3 separate regions of the Homo sapiens genome follow, and regions 2 and 3 are each linked to region 1. The links come from fine-mapping of genetic effects on gene expression. A gene starts in region 1. Each other region holds a variant in brackets. All regions are shown on one strand. Distances are between the middles of the regions.

Region 1 (7,439 bases):
AGGCAACAGTGAAGTTTTGTGGAGGCGTTCCCAGCCCAATTTCCCCAAAATACTGCACCTGATAGCAAAAGAGGAGAGTAAACGAAGAGTTTGGCTCAAGGGCGCAGGGGTGAGGGCTGTGTGGGGCTGTGACTCACATCCCTGTAGTTCGAGAGAGGTACGAAGATGGGCTTGTCCCCAGGGGATGGGGCCCCCAACTTGGGGAGCTCTGCTGGTTCTCTCCATCCCCTCAGTAGGTTCAGGATCCTGCGTCCAGGTTGGACTCGATGAAGAGGGATGCTGTAGGGAAAGAGGATATTGACAGGAAGCTGCCCTTCTTGGAGAACCTCTAAATAGACTTACCCAAATAGGATATGATGACAAATTCAACATCTCCAAGGCACTACAATAGTAGTCAGTACCAGAAACCCTGCAATAACAACCTCCAGAAAAGCCCATCAAAGATGCCATGATGACAAATATCCCCAAAGACTTTACAAGAGCAAACCATCCCAAACAGACCTTTCCATGTCCAAATCCCTTAAAATAAGCTATTCCCAAGGAATTGACATTCTTAAAGATTTCCCAAGACCCTAACAGAAAACCTAACCTTTGCAAAAGCCCTTGGGTGGTGGCCCCTGCATGCTTCAGTTCGTGAGGTTAGGGACTATTTTCCCCACCCTTGAGGAGAAAAATGTAAGCGTCAAATCTTAATTGTCTTGCTGTGTTGCCCGTGCTGATCTCAAACTCCTGGCCTCAGCCTCCTAAAGTGCTGGGATTACAGAGGAGAGCCACTATGCCCTGTCCGGGTTCCTTTAAACTGTATTTGCAAAAGCAGGAGGCAAACAGGATTTGGCCCTTAAGCTGAGTGTTTGCAACCCTTGACTTAGAGGGCCAATTACAATTCAGGTATCTTAGTTGCTAATTAAGTAGGTCTAGGATGGAGCCGAGAATTTGGATTTCTAACAAGTTCCCAGGTCATGACGATGCTGTTGATACAACATTTGGAGACTCATTTTCTTTGCATTGACTTAGAAAATGGCCATGAGACATTAGGTTCAAAAAGCAGGTTAACAAGCACCATGTGCGGTAATATCTTCGTTCCTGCCTTTAGTCACTCCTTGAAGCACTTGTCACATCACTCACACCTTTCCCGTCACCCCCCATGAGTCAGTCTTTGAGAGGCACGAGAATGTGAAGTGGGGAAAACTCTTCCTGGAAGTGTACACCCCTCCCCCTACCAAGAGTTCCAGGGAATGAAGACAAGAGAGGAGAAAAAGAGAGATGGGGGCGGGGAGGGGACATCAGAGGTAAGGTAGTGGGAAGACTTCTTGCATAGGGTCCCCAAGATTGGATTTCTTTTTCTTCTTTTAAACTTTTTATTTGAAACAGGGTCTCCCTCTGTCACCCAGGCTGGAGTGCAGTAGTGCAGTCAGGGCTCACTGCAGCCTTGATCTCCAGGGCTCAAGTGATTCTCCCACCTCAGCCTCTGGAGTAGCTGAGACTATGGGCACACCACCACACCTGGCTTTTTATTTTATTTTATTTTATTTATTAATTTTTTTTTTAGACAAGGTGTCACCCTGTTGCCCAGCCTGGAGTGCAGTAGCAGGATCATAGCCCACTGCCCCCTCGAACTACTGGGCTCAAGCAATCCTCCTTCCTCACCCTCCTGAACTAGCTGGGACCATGGGTGTGCACCACCACACTGAGCTAATTTTTGTATTTTTTGTAGAGGTGGAGTCTGGCCATGTTGCCCAGGCTGGTCTCAAAACTCTTGGCCTCAAACAAGCTTCCCACCTTGGACTTCCAAAGTGCTGGGTTACAGGTGTGAGCCATGTCTCTGGCCAAAAACATGACTTCTTCAGGCCAGTTTGATGGGCGTGATGTGGGGGAGTCTCAGTTTAAATGTCACATATCTGGGGCTCGAAGATGGGAGGAGTGTGTCACAGGTCTGGAAACCACAGTACCTAATCATCAGAGCTCATAGTAGGGTCTGCAGAGACCTCTCAAAAACATGTCCTGGCCAGGCGCAGTGGCTCACGCCTGTAATCCCAGCACTTTGGGAGGCTGAGGCAGGCAGATCACGAAGTCAGGAGTTCAAGACCAGCTTGGCCAACATGGTGAAACCTCATCTCTACTAAAGATACAAAAAAAATTAGCCGGGCATGGTGACTCACGCCTGTAATCCCAGCACTTTCAGAGGCAGGAGAATGGTGTCAGCCTGGGAGGTGGAGGTTGCAGTGAGCTGAGATCGCGCCATTGCACTCCAGCCTGGGCGACAGGGCAAGACTCCGTCTCAAAAAAAAAAAAAAAAAAAGGCCAGGCGCGGTGGCTTACGCCTGTAATCCCAGCACTTTGCGAGGCTGAGGTGGGTGGATCACGAGGTCAGGAGATCGAGACCATCCTGGCTAACACTGTGAAACCCCATCTCTACTAAAAATACAAAAAATTAGCCGGGCGTGGTGGCGGGTGCCTGTAGTCCCAGCTGCTTGGGAGGCTGAGGCAGGAGAATGATGTGAACCCGGGGGACAGAGCTTGCAGTGAGCCAAGATTGCGCCACTGCACTCCAGCCTGGGCAACAGAGTGAGACTCAGTCTCAAAAAAAAAAAAAAAAAAAAAGTCCTGAGAGGAGGGGGAGGGGTCCTCAATCTAGAGTCTCAGTGTTGTAAGATCTGGGACTTAAAAGGGCTCTGGGACCGGACGCGGGGGCTCACAGCTGTAACCACAGCACTTTTGGAGGCTGAGGCGGAAAGATCACTTGAGGTCAGGAGTTCAAGACAGCCTGGCAAACATGGCGAAACCCCATCTCTACTAAAAATACAAAAATTAGCCGGGCGTGGTGGCATGTGCCTGTAGTCCCAGCTACTTGGGAGGCTGAGGCAGGAGAATCACTTGAACCCGGGAGGCAGAGGTTGCAGTGAGCTGAGATCGCCCCACTGCACTCCAGCCTGGGTAACAGAGCAAGACTCTGTCTCAAATAATAATAATAATAATAAATAATAATAATAATAATAATAATAATAAAAGGGCTCTGGTCAGCCAGGCGCGGTGGCTCACGCCTGTAATCCCAGCACTTTGGGAGGCCGAGGTGAGCGGATCACGAGGTCAGGGGTTCCAGACCAGCCTGGCCAACATGGTGAAACCCCGTCTCTACTAAAAATACAAAAATTAGCTGAGCATGGTGGCGCGAGCCTGTAATCCCAGCTACTTGGGAAGCTGAGGCAGGAGAATCGCTTGAACCCAGGAGGCAGAGGTTTCAGTGAGCTGAGATCATGCCATTGCACTCCAGCCTGGGCAACAGAGTGAGACTCCATCTCAAAAAAAAGAAATCTGGTCTTAAGAGATGTCAGAGTGGAGCCCTTAGGGGTGACAGCCTGGTTTAGAGATCTGGAAAGCTGAGAAAGAAGCTCTAGGGATCCTGGGTGCCAAGTTTGGGGATCACTGAACTGGGAGTCCTAGACTTAAAGGGCAAGAGGCAGAAAATCCCTCCTAAGGTTGGGGTGGTAGATGGGGTCACCATACCGGATCAGTGTGGCCCCGGAAGGCTCCACATTCAGCAGAGGCAGCAGCAGCAGCAGGGGTTGCAGCAGCGGTGGTGGAGACATCGCTGGGGACCTGGGTGTGAACCCAGGTGTCCTGGGGCCTCATTTTCTTTCCCCTGTGACTCCACCCTGTTCATGCCCCACCTCCAGGTTTAGAAGGAGACCAGGACATGAAATCTGTCCGCAGGTGACGCAGTGGGACAAGGATGTTTTTTGAAGATTTGTGCAGAGTATTTTTGTAGGGTTGGCAGAAGTAGCATCCTGTGCTCCTGGTGCTCCTCACTCCCTACTTGGGTGGCAGTGGTGGTGGGGTCTCCTCCACCGTCACCACCTCCCACCCCCCCATCCTTCAGCTGCTGTCAGTTTTACTTTTAACTTTCACATAACTTTTCTGAGACTTATTAACCACAAGTGTTTCCTTGGCCAAGTGGGAGAGACCAGCAGGTATCTGTGAAGGGCCTGGGGGAAGGGAGAAAGGACATGATTAGACACCTGCCCTCACATATGAAGTGGGCCCGCATTTCAGGACCCAGTCTCTTACTGTTTTATTTGTAGGTGAAGTATGTTTCTTGTTGACAACAGATCATTGGGTATTGTTTTTTGTTTGTTTGTTTTTGTTTTTGTTTTTTGGTTTTTTTTTTTTTGAGACCGAGTTTCACTCTTGTTGCCCAGGCTGGGATTACAGGCATGCGCAACCACGCCCCACTAATTTTGTAGTTTTAGTAGAGACAGGGTTTCTCCATGTTGGTCAGGCTGGTCTAGAACTCCCGACCTCAGGTGATCCGCCCGCCTCAGCCTCCTAAAGTGCTGGGATTACAGGCGTGAGCCACTGCACCCAGCTGATTCTCAATTATTTCAATCTCTTTGTTAAATTTATGTGATGGAATCTGAATTCCTTCTGTGTGTTAGCTTGAATTTCTTTGAGTTTCCTCAAAACAGCTATTTTAAATTCTCTGTCGGAAAGGTCACATATCTCTGTTTCTTCAAGGATTGGTCCTTGGTGGCTTATTTGATTTGTTTGGTAAGGTCATTTATTCTGGATGGCCTTGATGCTTATAGATGTTCATTGGTGGCTGGGCATTGATGAGTTATTTATTTATTTATTTATTTATTTATTTATTTATTTATTTAGATGGAGTTTTGCTCTTGTTGCCCAAGCTGCAGTGCAATGGTGTGATCTCAGCTCACTGCAACCTCTGCCTCCCAGGTGCAAGTAATTCTGCCTCAGCCTCCCGAGTAGCTGGGACTACAGGCACCCGATACCACCCTGGCTAAATTTTTTTTTTTTTTTTGAGATGGAGTTTCACTCTTATTGCCTAGGCTGGAGTGTAATGGCGCCATCTTGGCTCACTGCAACCTCTGCCTCCTGAGTTCAAGCGATTGTCCTGTCTCAGCCTCCCAAGTAGCTGGGATTATAGGCGCATGCCAGCTAGTTTTTGTATTTTTAGTAAAGACAGGGTTTCATCATATTGGTCAGGCTGGTCTCGAACTCCTGACCTCAGGTGATCCACCTGCCTCGGCCTCCCAAAGTGCTGGGATTACAGGCATGAGCCACCGCACCCAGCCTACACCCAGCTAATTTTTGTATTTTTAGAAGAGACAGGGTTTCACCATGTTGTCTAGCCTGGTCTCAAACTCCTGACCTCAGGTGATCTTCCTGCTTCAGCCTCCCAAAATGCTGGGATTAGACATGAGCCACCATGCCTGGCCATGTTAGGTATTTATTGTAGTCTTTGCAGACAAGGCTTGTTTGTACCTGTCCTTTTTGGGGAGGCTTTCCAGGTATTCAAAAGTACTTGGGTGTTGTGATCTAAGCCATGTCTGCATTAGGGGGCTCCCCAAGCCCATTAATGCTGTGGTTCTTGCAAACTCATAGAGGTACTATCTTAGTGGTCTTAGATAAGATCCAGAAGATTTATCTGGATTACCAGGCAGAGACTCTTGCTCTCTTCCCTTGCTTTCTCTCAAACAGAGTCAGTCTCTCTCTCTCCCTCTCTCTCTCTCTCTCTCTCTCTCTCTCTCTGTCTCTGTCTCTCTCTCTCTGCTGAGCTACCTGGAGCTGGGAGTGGGGTGACACAAACACCCCATGCCTACTATCACTGGGATTGCGCTGGGTCCTGCCCATGGCCTCCTGTAACCACGACCTACCTGCCTACTGCTTATGTTTGCTCAAGGCCCTTGGGCTCTAAAACTAGCAGGTTCCAAAGGCAGCCATGCTTGCATCCTTCCCTTCAGGGCATCAAGTTACCTCAGGTCCCAGGTGGGTCCAGAGATACAGTCAGTGAGCCAGGGACTGGAGTCAAAACCCTTAGAAATCGGCTGGATGCGGTAACTCATGCCTGTAATCCCAGCACTTTAGGAGGCTGAGGCAGGCGGATCACTTGAGGTCAGGAGTTCGAGGCCAGTCTGGCCAACATGGTGAAACCCTGTCTCTACTAAAAATACAAAAATTAGCCAGGCGTGGTGGTCAGCGCCTGTAATCCCAGCTACTCGGAAGGCCGAGGCAGGAGAATCACTTGAACCTGGGAGGCGGAAGTTGCAGTGAGCCAAGATCGCGCTGCTACACTCCAGTCTGGGCGACAGAGCAAGACTCCCTCTCAAAAAAAAAAAAAAAAAAAAAAGAAACAAAAGAAAGGCTAGGTGCGGTGGGGGTGCGTTTGGGAGGCTGGGGGTGTCATCCCAGCCCTTTGGAAGGCTGAGGCAGGAGGATCGCTTGCGCCTGGGAGTTGGAGACCAGCCTGGGCAACAAAGGGAGACCCTGTCTGTACAAAAAAAATGTAAAAATTATCTGGGCGTAATGGCACACTCCTGTAGTCCCAGCTACTGGGGAAGGTGAGGCTGGAGGATAACTTGAGCCTAGGAGGCTGAAGCTGCAGTGAGCCGTCATCACGCCACTGCACTCCATCCCAGGTGACAGAGTGAGACACTGTCTCAACAGAAATAAATAAATACATAAATAATGGTAAAGATCCACTTTGTGCACTCCTTGCTCTGGGGGATTTTCCTGAAGCAGCCGAACGTGTCCCTGATAACTGTCACCACCCCCCTTTGTTTTCTCAGTCAGAGCACTCGATCTGGGCCCCTTCAACTCGCCCCGCACGCTTTCCGTCTGCAGCACCCCATCCAACTGCACCCAAGCGCCCTTAAGTAGTTTGAGAGGCCGTGCCTGCAAATTCCCAATTGGCCACAAGGTGGAGGTGTGGGCCTGTTTTCCCAGCCAAGATTCCCCAGCCGCCACCCGTTTCTAGAGCTGGACCCCTGGAACACCAGGCTCTCTCCAGCTTTCCTGCTTCCGCCCTAGCAGTTCCCACCGCCTGGAATGCCGACTTGCTCGCTCTCTGCACCCCACGGGAAAAGGAGCAGAACAGGCTTCCTCCCTGACTCCCCTGCCCAAGCGTACTGGGAGATCTCCTGCCGAACACGGCCCGGCCAATGGGACCTGGATCTCCCCATGTCTTGTCTCTCAGGGGGTTGTGACCGAGTGGGCCTCCACCATCAGAGGAGCACAGTTTCCAGAATCGCCCAACACAATCTTTCCCGAATCCCCTCAGGAAGTGATTAGGTAAAGGATTGCCAGATTTTTAAACCCGTCATTTTATTTACTAACCTTGTAAGAAAGGAATTATCGCCCACATTTTACCGGGTTGGGGAGGGGCTGCTGCGGTGCAGCAAGATTAAGAGGAGGCAGCCCAGGTGCACTTGGAGGGGAATTGAACCTGGTTCTTGAAGCTGCAGACACCAAGTAATCAGCCCAGATGCCTCGCATCGTCTTTGCCAGGATTACTTTTGCCCCTGTTCCATTGGTGGGAATCTGTCACGTGGTTGCTCCTGGCTGCAAGGACGACCCGGAAATGTAGTCCAGTTGTGTGTCCAAGAGTGGGGGACCCTTTGGGTGACTCTCAGGCACTGTGGGCC
Region 2 (7,439 bases), 59 kb after region 1:
GAGTGAGACTGCCAGGTCCTAGGCATGGTGTGGATCTAGCTTTAGTTTTTCCTAGACTCGAGTTCTTGAAGCAACAACACATGATTCATGGGGCGAATCAACATATGGAGATTTATTTATTTATTTATTTATTGAGACAGAGTTTTGCTCTGTCGCCGGGCTGGAGTACAGTGGTGCGATCTCGGCTCACTGCAACCTCAGCCTCCTGGGTTCAAGCGATTCTCCTGCCTCAGCCTCCCAAGTAGCTGGGACTACAGGTGCGCACCACCATGCCTGGCTAATTTTTGTATTTTTAGTAGAGACGGGGTTTCACCATGTTGGCCAGGCTGGTATCGATCTCCTGACCTCATGATCTGCCTGCCTTGGCCTTCCAAAGTGCTGGGATTACAGGCATGAGCCACCATGCCCGGCCTATTTATTTTTCGAGACAGAGTCTCACTCTGTCACCCAGGCTGGAGTGCAGTGGCGCGATCTCAGCTCACTGCAACCTCCACCTCCCAGGTTCAAGCGATTCTCCTGCCTCGGCCTCCAGAGTAGCTGGGATTACAGACATCTGCCACCAGGCCCAGCTAATTTTTGTATTTTCAGTAGAGATGGGGTTTCCCCATGTTGTGCAGGCTGGTCTCGAACTCCTGACCTCAGGTGATTCACTGGCCTCAGCCTCCCAAAGTGCTAGGATTACAGGCGTGCGCCACCACGCCTAGCTAATTTTTGTATTTTTAGTAGAGACGGGATTTCACCATGTTGGCTAGACTGGTCTTGAACTCCTGACCTCAGGTGATCTGCCCGCCTCGGCCCCCCAAAGTGTTGGGATGACAGGCGTGAGCCACCACGCCTGGCCTGGAGGTGTATTTAAAAAGCATTGACCCCTGCCTCTGTTAAGTGAAACACTTCCATTTCCCCTTGCCCTTCACCTCCGGAGCCCCCAGGCAGGCAAGGCTGGGGGAGTTCTTCCACCCCTTCTCCAGGCGCCCTGATTCGCTGACTGTGTGCCAGTGAGGGGCCAGGGTTCTTGGGAGCCCACCGTCTTAGCAGGAGCTGGCTGCTGTGTGCCCCTATTGGGTTGTGTCTCTACTCTCTGTATCTCTGTCTCTTTGTCCCTGTCTCTGATGCCTAGTCTCTGTGTTTCTTTGTTGCTCTAATCTCTCCAGCATCCCCTCTTCTCTCCCATGTCTGTGTTGGAGTCTCCCCAAGGGTCCAGGGTGGGGGTTGGGAGTCCCCAAGGCCTGGGATGACCCCTCTTCCCTCCTGCACCCCGTATCAGTACCCAGATGGCGTCTTCTATGACCTGGACAGCTGCAAGCATTCCAGCTACCCTGATTCAGAGGGGGCTCCTGGTGAGTGACCCCAGCCCTGTGCCCTTCCTGCCTTGGGGCCCATTTCACAGATAGGGGAGCTGAGGCCCAGGGGAGGTCATTTCCTAGCACAACAGGATAAAGGTGGCCCGGGCCTATAGCCCTCCTCCCCTTTCCTCTCCTACCCATCCGCTCCTCCATGCAAATCCTGGGGTCAGAGATTTGCACAGCCTACAATGGCCTCTCTGTGCTGGGGGCTTCGACTGCGAGGAGGCCTCCGTGAGACATCCCAGCTTCTGACTCAGTGCCCTTCCCCCAGACTCCCTGTGGGACTGGACTGTGGCCCCACCTGTCCCAGCCACCCCCTATGAAGCCTTCGACCCGGCAGCAGCCGCTTTTAGCCACCCCCAGGCTGCCCAGCTCTGCTACGAACCCCCCACCTACAGCCCTGCAGGGAACCTCGAACTGGCCCCCAGCCTGGAGGCCCCGGGGCCTGGCCTCCCTGCATACCCCACGGAGAACTTCGCTAGCCAGGTGAGTGGTAAGGGGACAGTTAAAATCAAGCCCAAACCAGGTGTGGTGGTGCACGCCTGTAATCCCAGCTGCTTGAGAGGCTGAGGTGGGAGGAGGATTGCTTGAGCCCAGAAGGTCGAGGCAATCCACTGCACTCCAGTCTGGGCAACAGAGCAAGACCCTGTCTCAAAAAAAAAAAAAAAAAAGAAAAAGAAAAGAAAACTCAAGCTCAGTCATTTGGTTGAGGTTTGCTGGGTGCCGGGCACTGCATTGAGACTGCACATAGTAAGCCCTGCAGCGGCCTCCCAGGTTACGTTCCGTTGTTGCCCCTCTGAACAAGTGAGTCAAGAGAGGTAGTGACAGGAAGCCAGGGACAGGGCAGACTCGCATTACCTGTGTTGGGCCGGCTTTGAGGAGGTACCTCAGGTGTCCCCTGGCCACAGCGTGGTGATCTGAACAAAGGCCAAAATCTAGGCTGTCAACAAAGAGGGAGACCAGAGCCAGGAGGGCCACCGCCTTGGCCTGAGAGGAGGAAGTGGAGGGAGACAAGGGGTCCCTGGACATGCAGGTGACCCTGACCTTCCGCAGACCCTGGTTCCCCCGGCATATGCCCCGTACCCCAGCCCTGTGCTATCAGAGGAGGAAGACTTACCGTTGGACAGCCCTGCCCTGGAGGTCTCGGACAGCGAGTCGGATGAGGCCCTCGTGGCTGGCCCCGAGGGGAAGGGATCCGAGGCAGGTATGCGGGAGTGGCTGGGGTGGGGGAGATGCCAGCTGGAGATGGTGGGGGGGCTGAGAGCACCATGGCTTCCTGGGCCTCTACATATACTCCAGCACTCTGGGCAGCTCCCAGATCCGCACCACCTGCTGGCTGTGTGACCTTGGGTAAGTGCCTCTACCTCTCTGTGCCCAGGTTTCCTGTCTGTGCGATGGGGATGGAGGTGATAGTGTCTACCCTCCTGAGGTCGTTGGGGGGACTAAATGGGATAGTAAGTGTAAATGGGACAGCAGTGCCAGGCACAGAGTGAGCACTTCAATAAGTCAACCTCTTCACCATCATTCCCGACACCACAGCAACAGAAATGATAATGCTATCAACCCCCAACGGTTCAACCCTTGCCCCCTGCCCGTGTGCCCAACATCCTTTATGCTCAACCCCAAGAAAGCTGAGATCGTTCCTTCCTTTCTGTGTCTGGGCCTCGGTTTCTCGTCTGTAAAGTGGGCATCACTGTCATCCTCCCCATCTCACGGGGTTATGATGGAGATTCAATGAGCTCATAACTGTAAAGTGCCTTGTGAAGCACCTGGCACTACATGCTCCACGGTGCATTGTAAAAATCAACACACAGGCTGGGTGTGGTGGCTCACGCCTGTAATCCCAGCACTTTGGGAGGCTGAGGCGGTCAGATCAACTGAGGTCAGGAGTTCGAGACCAGCCTGGCCAACATGGCAAAACCCCGTCTCTACTAAAAACACAAAAATTAGGCTGGGCATGGTGGCTCATGCCTTTAATCCCAGCACTTTGAGAGGCTGAGGAGGATGGATCACGAGGTCAAGAGATCGAGACCATCCTGGCCAACATGGTGAAACCTCACATTTACTAAAAATACAAAAATTAGCTAGGCGTGGTGGTGTGCACCTGTAGTCCCAGCTACTCGGGAGGCTGAGGCAGAAGAATCGCTTGAACCCAGGAGGCAGAG[G/C]TTGCAGTAAGCCGAGATCTTGCCACTGCAGTCCAGCCTGGCGACAGAGTAAGACTCTGTCTTAAAAAAAAAGAAAAAAGAAAGAAAAAAAAATTAATGGGGCATGGTGGTACATGCCTGTAATCCCAGCTACTCAGGAGGCTGAGGCAGGAGAGTTGCTGGAACCCAGGAGGCAAAGGTTGCAGTGAGCTGAGATTGCACCACTGGACTCCAGCCTGGGTGACAGAGCAAGACTCCGTCTCAAAAACAAACAAACAAAACCACAGCCTCATTTAAAAAATTTTAATTAATTAATTAATTTATTTTTTGAGACAGAGTCTCGCTCTGTTACCCAGGCTGGAGTGCAGTGGCACGATCTCGGCCCACTGCAACCTCCACCTTCTGGGTTCAAGCAATCCTCCTGCCTCAGCCTCCGCAGTAGCTGGGATCACAGGCACCCACACCATACCCAGCTATTTTTTGTATTTTTAGTAGAGATGGGGTTTCACCATCTGGCCAGGCTGGTCTCAAACTCCTGACCTCAGGTGATCCGCCCGTCTCGGCCTCACAAAGTGCTGGGATTACAGGCGTGAGCCACTGTGCCCAGCCACACAGCCTCATTTGTGGCTGAGAGACTTCAGCTCAGAGAGGTTAATTAAGTCACCTATTTTAACTTAGGACATTTAAGATGGAGAGGATCTCTCCAATGACTAGGAAAGACACAAGATGGAAATAAAGATTTTATTTATTTTTATTCATTTATTTGAGACGGTCTCCATCTGTCACCCAGGCTGAAGCGCAGTGGCGCAATCTCGGCTCACTACTGCCTCAAACTCCTGGGCTCAATCGATCCTCCTGCCTCAGCCTCCTGAGTAGCTAGGACCACAGGCGTACACCACCACACCTGACTAATTTTTAAAATTTTTGTAGAGGTGAGGTCTCGCTATGTTGCCCAGGCTGAACTCCCAACTCCTGAGCCTATGTGCTCCTCCCACCTCAGCCTCCCAAAGTGCTGAAGTTACAGGCATGAGCCACCACACCCAGCCAGAAATAAATTATTTTATGGCTTATAGGTCCTGGGGCATACATGGCACGCCTGGAGGCCACACACACCAGGTCAGGGAGCGCAGGCAGGGAGGGAGAGAGAGAGGGACCAGTGGACTGACGCCTTTATTGGGTCCAAGGCGTCGGCCAAACAGGTTTCCTGAGGGGGTTTTAATTGGTGGGTTCAGGCCAGGCACAGTGGCTCATGCCTATAATCCCAGCACTTTGGGAGGCTGAGGCTGGTAGATCACCTAACGTCAGGAGTTCAAGACCAGCCTAGCCAACATGGTGAAACCCCGTCTCTACTAAAAATACAAAAATTAGCTGGGCCTGGTGGTGCACGCCTGTAATCCCAGCTACTTGGGAGGCTGAGGCAGGAGAATCGCTTGAATCCAGGAGGCAGAGTTTGCAGTGAGCTGAGATCATGCCACTGCACTCCAGCCTGGGCAACAGAGCAAGACTCCAGCTCAAAATAAATAAATAAATAAATACTTGGTGGGTTGAAAGCAAGCAGGATCAAGTTCCAGGAGGTCACGCTGTGCCTGAGAGGGGGTCACTGAGGCATCTGCACAGTCCATGCAGGGCCGTCAAGTAGGCTGTCCATGGCTCTCCCACAGGGAGGTGGTCACCAGGAGTCAGTTGCATAAGAGAGATATCTGGGTCAGCCACACTGAGGAACTCGGGGAGGGAGATGTAGAACTGCCAAGGAGGACAGCCCTGCTTCCAGCATGAGAATGTCCAACTTTTATTTAGTTTTATTTTATTTTATTTTGAGAGGGAGTTTCGCTCTTGTTGCCCAGGCTGAGTGCAATGATATGATTTCAGCTCACTGCAACCTCTGCCTCCTGGGCTAAAGTGATTCTCCTGCCTCAGCCTCCCAAGTAGCTGGGATTACAGGCATGAGCCAAGCACACCCAGCTAATTTTTGTATTTTTAGTAGAAACCGGGTTTCATCATGTTGGCCAGGCTTGTCTCGAACTCCTGACCTCAAGTGATCTGCCCACCTTGGCCTCCCAAAGTGCTGGGATCACAGGCATGGCCCACCGCGCCCAGCCTCCAACTTATACTTTCGATGAATGCCGAGGCAGCCTAAAATTATAAGAATTCAATCCGGGTGCAGTGGCTCACACCTGTAATCCCAGCATTTTGGGAGGCCGAGGTGGGAGGATCACCTGAGGCCAGGAGTTCAAGACCAGCCTGGGCAACATAGTAAGACACCATCTCTACAAAAAATAAAACAATTAGCTAGGCATGATGGTGCATACTTGTAGTCCCAGCTACTGGGGAGGCTGGGGCAGGAGGATTGCTTAGGCCCAGGAGGTCGAGGCTGCAGTGAGCTGTGATTGCTCCTCTGCACTCCATCCTGGGTGACAGAACGAGACCCTGCCTTGAAAAAAAAGAAATTAAGATGTCACTACGTCACCACCCCAAGGTCACACTGCTGTAAAATGGCAGAGATGGGATTCTTGTAGCCAGTGCCCTGCTTTGAAACTCCCAGTTATTGGCCGGGCGCAGTGGCTCATGCCTGTAATCCCAGCACTTTGGGAGGTCGAGGTGGGCGGATCACCTGAGGCCAGGAGTTCGAGACCAGCCTGGCCAACATGGCGAAACCCCGTCTCTACTAAAAATATAAAAATAAGCCGGGCATGGTGGCAGACGTCTGTAGTCCCAGGTACTCGGGAGGCTGAGGCAGCAGAATTGCTCGAACCCAGGAGGCAGAGGCTGCAGTAAGCCGAGATTGCGCCATTGCACTCCAGCCTGGGCCGCAGAGCAAGACCCCGTCTCAAAAACAAACTAAACCCTAGGAGCCCAGGAGTCAGGTGCCCTGGCCTCTCCCGGGACCCTGTCCCGCTTTGGGCTGAGAGGCTGGGAGACCAGGAGCTGGAGAGATAGCCAGGCCAATGCAACTGCCTCCAGATCTGTTCGCCTCTCCGTTATAATCCTTTAAGCGGCGCTGTCAACCCATTTCACAGATTCTTTCATCCACTAGCTCAACAAATATGGAATATTACGTGCTGGCCGCAGGGCGGAAGGCAGGACAGATGTAAATCTCGAAAATTAAAGCACAGAACGCGGAGGGGGCCTGGGGCTGACAGCTTCGGGCAGGGGGAGTGGCTTGCCCCCCCCCCCCCCCGTGGTGAGGGGCGCAGAGCCAGGTGTATGTAACAGCCACTTCCCTCACCCCACTTTTCAGATCCAGGAGATGGAGGCCGGGGTGGAAGTCTCGGAGGAGGGTGGATGGGGAAGGCGGGGCCTTAGGGACCCCTCACCTAACGCGTGCCCCCGACCCCACCGCAGGGACTCGCAAGAAGCTGCGCCTGTACCAGTTCCTGCTGGGGCTACTGACGCGCGGGGACATGCGTGAGTGCGTGTGGTGGGTGGAGCCAGGCGCCGGCGTCTTCCAGTTCTCCTCCAAGCACAAGGAACTCCTGGCGCGCCGCTGGGGCCAGCAGAAGGGGAACCGCAAGCGCATGACCTACCAGAAGCTGGCGCGCGCCCTCCGAAACTACGCCAAGACCGGCGAGATCCGCAAGGTCAAGCGCAAGCTCACCTACCAGTTCGACAGCGCGCTGCTGCCTGCAGTCCGCCGGGCCTGAGCACACCCGAGGCTCCCACCTGCGGAGCCGCTGGGGGACCTCACGTCCCAGCCAGGATCCCCCTGGAAGAAAAAGGGCGTCCCCACACTCTAGGTGATAGGACTTACGCATCCCCACCTTTTGGGGTAAGGGGAGTGCTGCCCTGCCATAATCCCCAAGCCCAGCCCGGGCCTGTCTGGGATTCCCCACTTGTGCCTGGGGTCCTCTGGGATTTCTTTGTCATGTACAGACTCCCTGGGATCCTCATGTTTTGGGTGACAGGACCTATGGACCACTATACTCGGGGAGGCAGGGTAGCAGTTCTTCCAGAA
Region 3 (7,439 bases), 22 kb before region 1:
TGAGCAACAGAACAAGACCCTGTCTCAAAAAAGAAACAAAAAAAGAAAAAAGAAAGAAAAAACTGGCACACGTACTAATACTCTTGCTACTACTATTGCTGGGAGTAATAAACTGCCCTTTGTCTCTGACTTGGGAGTCTTGGGTCTTCTATGAGCAGCCATGAAACTATGGCAAACTAACTTCATAGTTCTTGACGCTCATTAGGAAAATGGACAAAGGACATAAAATTGCAAAAGAAGTACAAATAAATTCTAAATACATGGAAAGATGTCATCAACAGTCATCAAAAAAATACAAATGACAACAGTGAGAAACCTTGTTTCACCATACAGATTGGCAAAGAACTGAGAATACTTATTGTTGATTAGGTTTGCAAATGTGTATCAAATGCTCGAAAATTGTACCCACCATTTAACACAACCCAGAATTTCATCTATAGGAGATCACTGGATGAGTGCACAGAGGTGGGTTTATGAGGCTGTGCCTAATTTTGGAAACTGGAGACAGTCCAATGATGAACTGCCTTTGCAAAAACTATAAGTGAGAAAATTAGGACAGTGAAAGAGATCTGATCTAAACAACCGCTACCTTGCCTTTAACTTCCAAACTGCCTTTGGTCATTCCTGGGCTTAGGCCAAGCTAACTTTGGGAGACAGTTTATAGTTTAAATGGTAATAGTCCATCCCCAAAACTAAACCACCTTTGTAAAGCTAATGAAGTACCACCAGGATAGGAGGATGAGAGGAGCATGAATTCTGCTAAGGTGCAGACATAAATGATTACCAGTCATTATTCCAGAGGTCAAAATATTTGCAGCTTCCCCAATTACTCCTGCAGATTACATCACTACTGTAGAACCTGATTGGCCTTTTGAGACTAAGGGTTTTTGCATTTCTGGTGATGCCACCCAGACCTGCCAACCAGTCCTGTGGCTCCACCCAGAAGCAGACTATTTTCCAGGCCCCTATGAATGATTACATCCTTGACCAATCAGCAGCACCCATTCCCAGGCCTGACAAACTATCCTTGAAAAACCCTGGCCTCCAAATGTTAGGGGAGGCTAATTTGTTGTTTTCATTTTGTTTTTTTATGAGATGGAGTCTCACTCTGTCACCCAGGCTGGAGTACATTGGCATGATCTCAGCTCACTGCAACCTCCACCCCCTGGGTTCAAGTGATTCTCCTCCCTCAGCCTCCTAAGTAGCTGGGATTACAGGCACCAACCACCATACTCAGCTAGTTTTTCTATTTGTAGTAGAGACGGGGTTTCATCATGTTGGCCAGGCTGGTCTTGAACTCCTAACCTCAGGTGATCCACCCGCCTCGGCCTCCCAAAGTGCTGGGATTATAGGCGTGAGCTGCCATGCCCACCTCTGATTTGAGTAATAATAAAACTCTGGTCTCCTGCTCAGCCAGTGGCTCGGCATAAATTAAACTCTTTCTCTATTGCCGCTTTCCTATCTTGATAAATTGGCTGTATCTGGGCAGCAGGCAGAAAGAACCAGCTAGGCGGTTACAGTGGCCAACAATGGGTACAGCTTAGTTCTGCTTTGGAACATACATAGAATGGAACCCCATTTGACCTCTAAGAAGGAGGAAGTAGCTGTCTATACCAGTCATTCTCAAACTTTATTTAGCATGACCCAAAATCACCTACAGCAGTGGTGTTGGGCAAATCTTTGTGTAGAGGCTTTGCAGGCCAGACAGTCTCTGTGGTAACTATTCAAATCTGTCCAGATAGCATGAAAGCAACTGCAGACAACAGATGCTATGGAAATGAATGCGCATGCTGACTCCAGTTTTGTTAGAGACAGGGTCTCACTCTGTTGCCCAGGCTGGAGAGCAATGACACGATTGTGGCTCACTGCAGTCTCAAACTCCTAGGCTCAAAGGTCATCTTGTCTCAGCCTGCCAAGTAGCTGGAATCAGGCATATGCCACCACATCCTAGCTAATTTTTTTTTCATTTTTTGTAGAGATAAGTTCTTGCTAAGTTGCCCAGGCTGGTCTCAAATTCTTGGCCCCAAGCAATTCTGCCTCGGCCCTGCAAAGTGTTGGGGTTACAGGCATGAGCCACTACATCTGGCCTAGATTCCCTTTAGCTTATTTGTAAAAGGGAAATAGCACGCAGGGTTTGACCCTCAGGCTCAGTGTTTGCCAAGCCCAGACTCAGAGGGCTGGTTCAAATTCAGATCTCTTAATTTTTAAGTAGATCTGGGATGGGGCTTGAGAATTTGCATTTCTAACAAGGTCCTGGGCCATGCTAATGCTATTGGTTTTGAGACAACATTCTGAGACTCACTGTTCTTTGCATTGACTTGGAAAATGTCCGTGATATATTAGGTTTGCAAAGCAGATGAATAGGGAATGATGAATTCATTGAACCTTACACCAGCAACATCTATACTCTCAGAGTCCTGGGAGAATTTCAGATTGTAAATCCTTACTTATTCAAAGATCTTACTGAGGTGGGAGGATTACTTGAGGCCAGGAGTTCATGACCAGTCTAGGAAACATAGTGAGACCCCCCATCTCTACAAAAAAAGAAAATCTTAAAAAAAAGCTGGTTAACAAACATAATGTGCAGTAATTTTTAAAATAAATTTTATATTTAATGATTTTTTTGTAGAAAGAGATGGGGTCTCACTATGTTGGCCAGGTTGGTCTTGAACTCTTGGCCTCAAGCAATCCTCCAGGCCTCTGCCTTCCATAGTGCTAGGATTACAGGTGTGAGCCACCATGGCTGGCCTCATGCAGTAATTTTTTTTTTTTTTTTTTTTGAGATGGAGTCTCGCTCTGTTGCCCAGACTGGAGTGCAGTGCCATGATCTTGGCTCACTGCAAGCTCCGCCTCCCAGGTTCACGCCATTCTCCTGCCTCAGCCTCCTGAGTACCTGGGACTACAGGCGCCCACCACCACGCCCGACTAATTTTTTTGTATTTTTAGTAGAGTTGGGGTTTCACCATGTTAGCCAGGATGGTCTCGATCTCCTGACCTTGTGATCTACCTGCCTCGGCCTCCCAAAGAGCTGGGATTACAGGCATAAGGCACCACGCCCAGCCTGCAGTAATATTTTTGTACCCAATTTTAGTCACTCCTTGGAGCATGACACCCTCACTCACACCTTTGCCCTCACCCCTCATGACTCAGTCTTTGAAAGGCACAAGAACGAGAAGTGGGGAAAACACTTTCCGGAAAATACACCCCTCCCCCTGCGAAGAGCCCCAAGGGGTAAGGAGAAGAGAAGAGAAGAGGGGAAGGGAGAAATTGGGGAAGCATCAGAGGTAAGGTAGGGGAGAACTTCTTGGGTGGGGTCCCCAAAACTGGACTTCTTTTTTTTTTGAGACAGGACCTCCCTTGTCGCCCAGGCTAGAGTACAGTAGCTCAATCATAGCTCACTGCAGCCTCAAAACCCTGGGTTCAAATGGTCCTCCCACCTCAGCCTCCCAAGTAGCTAAGACTACAGGCACCTGTCACCGTGCCTGGCTG[AT/A]TTTTTTTTTCTGTAGAGACTGGGGGTCTCACTATGTTGCCCAAGCTAGTCTTGAACTCCTAGCCTCAAGCAGTTCTCCTACCTTGGCCTCCCAAAGTGCTGAGTTGACAGTGGTGAGCCATTGTGCTCAGACAAAAAAATAGACTTCTTGAGGCCTAAACAATTTGGAGGGTGTGAATGTGGGGGAGTCTTAGTTTAAATGTCACATGCCTTGGTCTCCAAGATGGCGGGAATGTGTCACATGTCTGGAGACCCCCATAACTGGTCATCAGAGCTTGGAGTGGGATCTGCAGAGGCCTCCAAAAAAACATATCCAGAGAAGAAGGGGAGGGTTCCTCACTCAAGAGTCTTAGTGAAGGCCGGGTGTGGTGGCTCGCGCCTGTAATCCCAGCACTTTGGGAGGCCGAGGCGGACAGATCGCGAGTTCAGGAGTTCAAGACCAGCCTGGCCAACATGGTGAAACCCCATCTCTACTAAAAATACAAAAATTAGCCAGGCATGGTGGTGCGTGCCTGTAATCCCAGCTACTTGGGAAGCTGAGGCAGGAGAATCGCTTGAACCCAGGAGGCGGAGGTTGCAGTGAGCCGAGACCACGCCACTGCACTCCAGCCTGGCAACAGAGTGAGACTCCGTTTCAAAAAAAAAAAAAAACAAAAAAAACAAAAAAAGAGTCTCAGTGTTGGAGGATCTGGGACTTAAAAGGGCTCTGGGCTGGACATGGTAGTTCACGTCTGTAATTCCAGCACTTTGGGAAGCTGAGGTGAGAGGATTGCTCGAGCCCAGGACATGGAGACCAGCCTGCAAAACATAGGGATACCCTCTTCTTTACAAAAAATTTCAAAAATTAGCTGGGCATGGTGACACATGCCTGTAGTCCCAGCTACTTGGGAGGCTGAGGTGGAAGAATGGCTTAAGACCACGAGTTTGAGGCTGCAGTGAGCCATGATCGCACTACTGCACTCCAGCCTGGGTGACACAGCAAGACCCAATCTCAACAAATAAATAAATAAAAAGAAAAAAATTATTTTAAAAAAGGAGCTCTGAGCCAGACGTGGTGGCTCACGCCTGTAATCCCAGCACTTTGGGAGGCTGAGGTGGGCAGATCACCTAAGGTCGGGAGTTCAAGACCAGCCTGATCAACATGGAGAAACCCCATCTCTACTAAAAATACAAAATTAGCCGGGGTGGTGTGGCACATGCCTGTAATCCCAGCTACTTGGGAGGCTGAGGCAGGAGAATCGCTTGAACCCAGGAGGTGGAGGTTGTGGTGAGCCAAGATCGTGCCATTGCACTCCAGCCTGGGCAACAAGAGTGAAACTCTGTCTCAAAAAAAATAAATAAATAAAAGGGAGCTCTGATCTTAGGAGATGTCAGAGTAGAGCCCTCGGGGTGAGAGCCCACTTTAGAGATCTGGAAAGCCAAGAAAGAAGAGTCAAGGATCCTGGGTGCCAGGTTTGGGAATCACTGAACCAGGAGCCCCAGACTTAAAGGGCAAAAAGCAGAGAATCCCTCCCAGGTTTGGGGGTGGCAAATGGGGTCACCATACCGGATCAGTGTGGCCCCAGCAGGCTCCACATTCAGCAGAGGCAGCAGCAGCAGCAAGGGTAGCAGCAGCAGTGGTGGAGACATTGCTGGGGAGCCGGGTGTGAACCCAGGCTTCCTAGTTTTCTTTCCCCTGTGACTCCACCCTGTTTATGCCCCACCTCCCGGTTTAGGAGGTGACCAGAACACGAGGTCTCTCAGCAGGTGACACAGGGGGACAAGGATGTTTTTGAAGATTTGTGCAGAGTATTTGTGTAGTGTCAACAAAAGTTGTATCCTGTGTCCTTAGTGCTCCTCATTCCCTACTTGGGGGGTGGTGGTCGTGGGGTGTCCTCTGCTGGGACTGCCTCCCACCCCCCATCCTTTAGCCTCTGTCACTTTTACTTCTCACTTTCACATCACTTTTCTGAGACTCATTAACCACAGTGTTTCCTTGGCCAAGTGGGAGGGACCAGCAGGTGTCTGTGAAGGGCCTGGGGAAGGGAGAGAGGAACTGATTATAAGCCTGCCCTCCCATATGAAGTGGGACTGCCTGCGTCTGAGGACCCAGACTCTTATTTGTAGGTGAAGTATGTTTCTTGTAAGCAACAAAACATTGGGTCTTCTTTTTCATCCATTCATCCGTTCTATATCTTTTTATTCGAGAGTTTAGTCCATTTACATTCAATGTTGTTCTTGATAAGGACGTCCTCCTGACATTTTGTTACTTGTTTTCTGGTTGTTTTGTAGTATTCTCTTCTTTCTGTCCTTCTTTCATGTTATTTATTTATTTATTTATTCATTTATTTTTGAGACAGAATCTCATTGTCGCCCAGGCTGGAGTGCCGTGGTGCAATCTCGGCTCACTGCAACCTCTGCCTCCTGGATTCAAGCGATTCTCGCCTCAGCCTCCCGAGTAGCTGGGACTACAGGCGCGTGCCACTGCACCTGGCTAATTTATGTATTTTTAATAGAGATTTGGTTTCATGATGTTGGCCATACTGATCTCAAACTCCTGACTTCAGGTGATCCACCCGCCTCAGCCTCCCAGAGTGCTGGGATTACACATGTGAGCCACCACACCTGGCCTCTGTTTTCCTTTTAGAGAAGATAATTTTCCTTGGTCATATGATTTAATTTTTTGCTTTTTTTTTTGTATCTGTTGTATGTTTTTTGATTTGAGGTTACCATGAGGCTTGCAAATATTGTCTTTTTTTTTTTTTTTTTTTGAGATGGAATCTCGCTCTGTTACCCAAGCTGGAGTGCAGTGGCTCGATCTCGGCTCACTGCAAGCTCTGCCTCCTGGGTTGACGCCATTCTCCTGCCTCAGCCTCCAGGGTAGCTGGGACTACAGGTGCCTGCCACCACACCTGGCTATTTTTTTTTTTTTTTTTTTGTATATTTAGTAGAGACGAGGTTTCACCGTGTTAGCCAGGATGGCCTCGATCTCCTGACCTCATGATCCGCCTGCCTTGGCCTCCCAAAGTGCTGGGGTTACAGGCGTAAGCCACTGTGCCCTGCCATAAATACTATCTTATAACCCATTATTTTAAGCTGACAACATAAACTTAACACTGTTTGCATAAACAAACCAACAAACCAACAAACAATAAGAAAATTAGTAAAAACTCTACACCTTCACTTTGTCCCCAACTTTTTAACTTTTTGTTGTTTGTATTTATATCTTATTGTACTGTCTATGTCTTGAAGCGTTGTTGTAGTTATTATTTTTGATTGGTTCATCCTTTAGTTTTTCTACTTAAGAGTTGTTCACACACCATAGTTATACTGTTACAATACACCATGTTTTTCTGTGTGCTTACTATTAGCAGTGAGTTTTGTACCTTCAGATGATTTTTTTTTTTTTTTTTGAGACGGAGTCTTGCTCTGTCACCCAGGCTGGAGTGCAGTGGTGCGATCTCAGCTCACTGCAAGCTCCACCTCCCGGGTTCATGCCATTTTCCTGCCTCAGCCTCCCGAGTAGCTGGGACTACAGGCACCCACCACCACATCCGGCTAATTTTTTTGTATTTTTAGTAGAGACGGGGTTTCACCGTGTTAGCCAGGATGGTCTCGATCTCCTGACCTCGTGATCCACATGTCTCTGCCTTCCAAAGTGCTGGGATTACACACGTGAGCCACCGCGTCTGGCCCAGATGATTTTTTATCACTCATTAACATGCTTTTCTTTCTGACTGAAGTACTCCCTTTAGCATTTCTTGTAGGACAGATCCGGTGTTGATGAAATTCCTCAGCTTTGTTTGTTCTGGGAGAGTCTTTATTTCTCCTTCATGCTTGAAGAATATTTTCACTGGATATGCTATTCTAGTGTAGCAGGACAAGCTGTGGAGAAAACCCCACAGACACCGAGATAGTGAAGGAAGTAGCTTTTAATCAGCTGGAAGCATCAGCAGACTAGCATCTTAAA

What was found.
Region 2: its variant is fine-mapped to the expression of NAPSA in whole blood (TOPMed, PIP above 0.99).
Region 3: its variant is fine-mapped to the expression of NAPSA in whole blood (TOPMed, PIP above 0.99).

Annotation. Positions count from the first base shown.
Region 1 is chr19:50,362,035-50,369,473 of GRCh38, forward strand. NAPSA (napsin A aspartic peptidase) reads right to left here and starts at 3,605. Exons shown (of 9, transcript NM_004851.3): 1 at 3,505-3,605; 2 at 138-279; 3 at 1-58. The coding sequence starts at 3,587. The region is part of intron 3 of LOC105372437 (a long non-coding RNA gene); the gene reads left to right. RefSeq lists enhancers at 3,806-3,955, 6,749-6,808.
Region 2 is chr19:50,421,209-50,428,647 of GRCh38, forward strand. It overlaps SPIB (Spi-B transcription factor), which reads left to right. Exons shown (of 6, transcript NM_003121.5): 3 at 1,265-1,337; 4 at 1,615-1,829; 5 at 2,397-2,547; 6 at 6,830-7,439. The coding sequence ends at 7,128. Among named protein-coding and RNA genes, the nearest start is that of SPIB, 6.0 kb to the left of the region's middle. RefSeq lists enhancers at 6,449-7,022, 7,023-7,439, 7,151-7,439. The variant G/C (reference allele first, on the strand shown) is at 3,509.
Region 3 is chr19:50,339,637-50,347,075 of GRCh38, forward strand. All of the region lies in intron 2 of LOC105372437 (a long non-coding RNA gene), which reads left to right. It also overlaps the pseudogene NAPSB. Among named protein-coding and RNA genes, the nearest start is that of KCNC3, 14 kb to the left of the region's middle. RefSeq lists enhancers at 2,933-3,172, 5,003-5,052. The variant AT/A (reference allele first, on the strand shown) is at 3,490.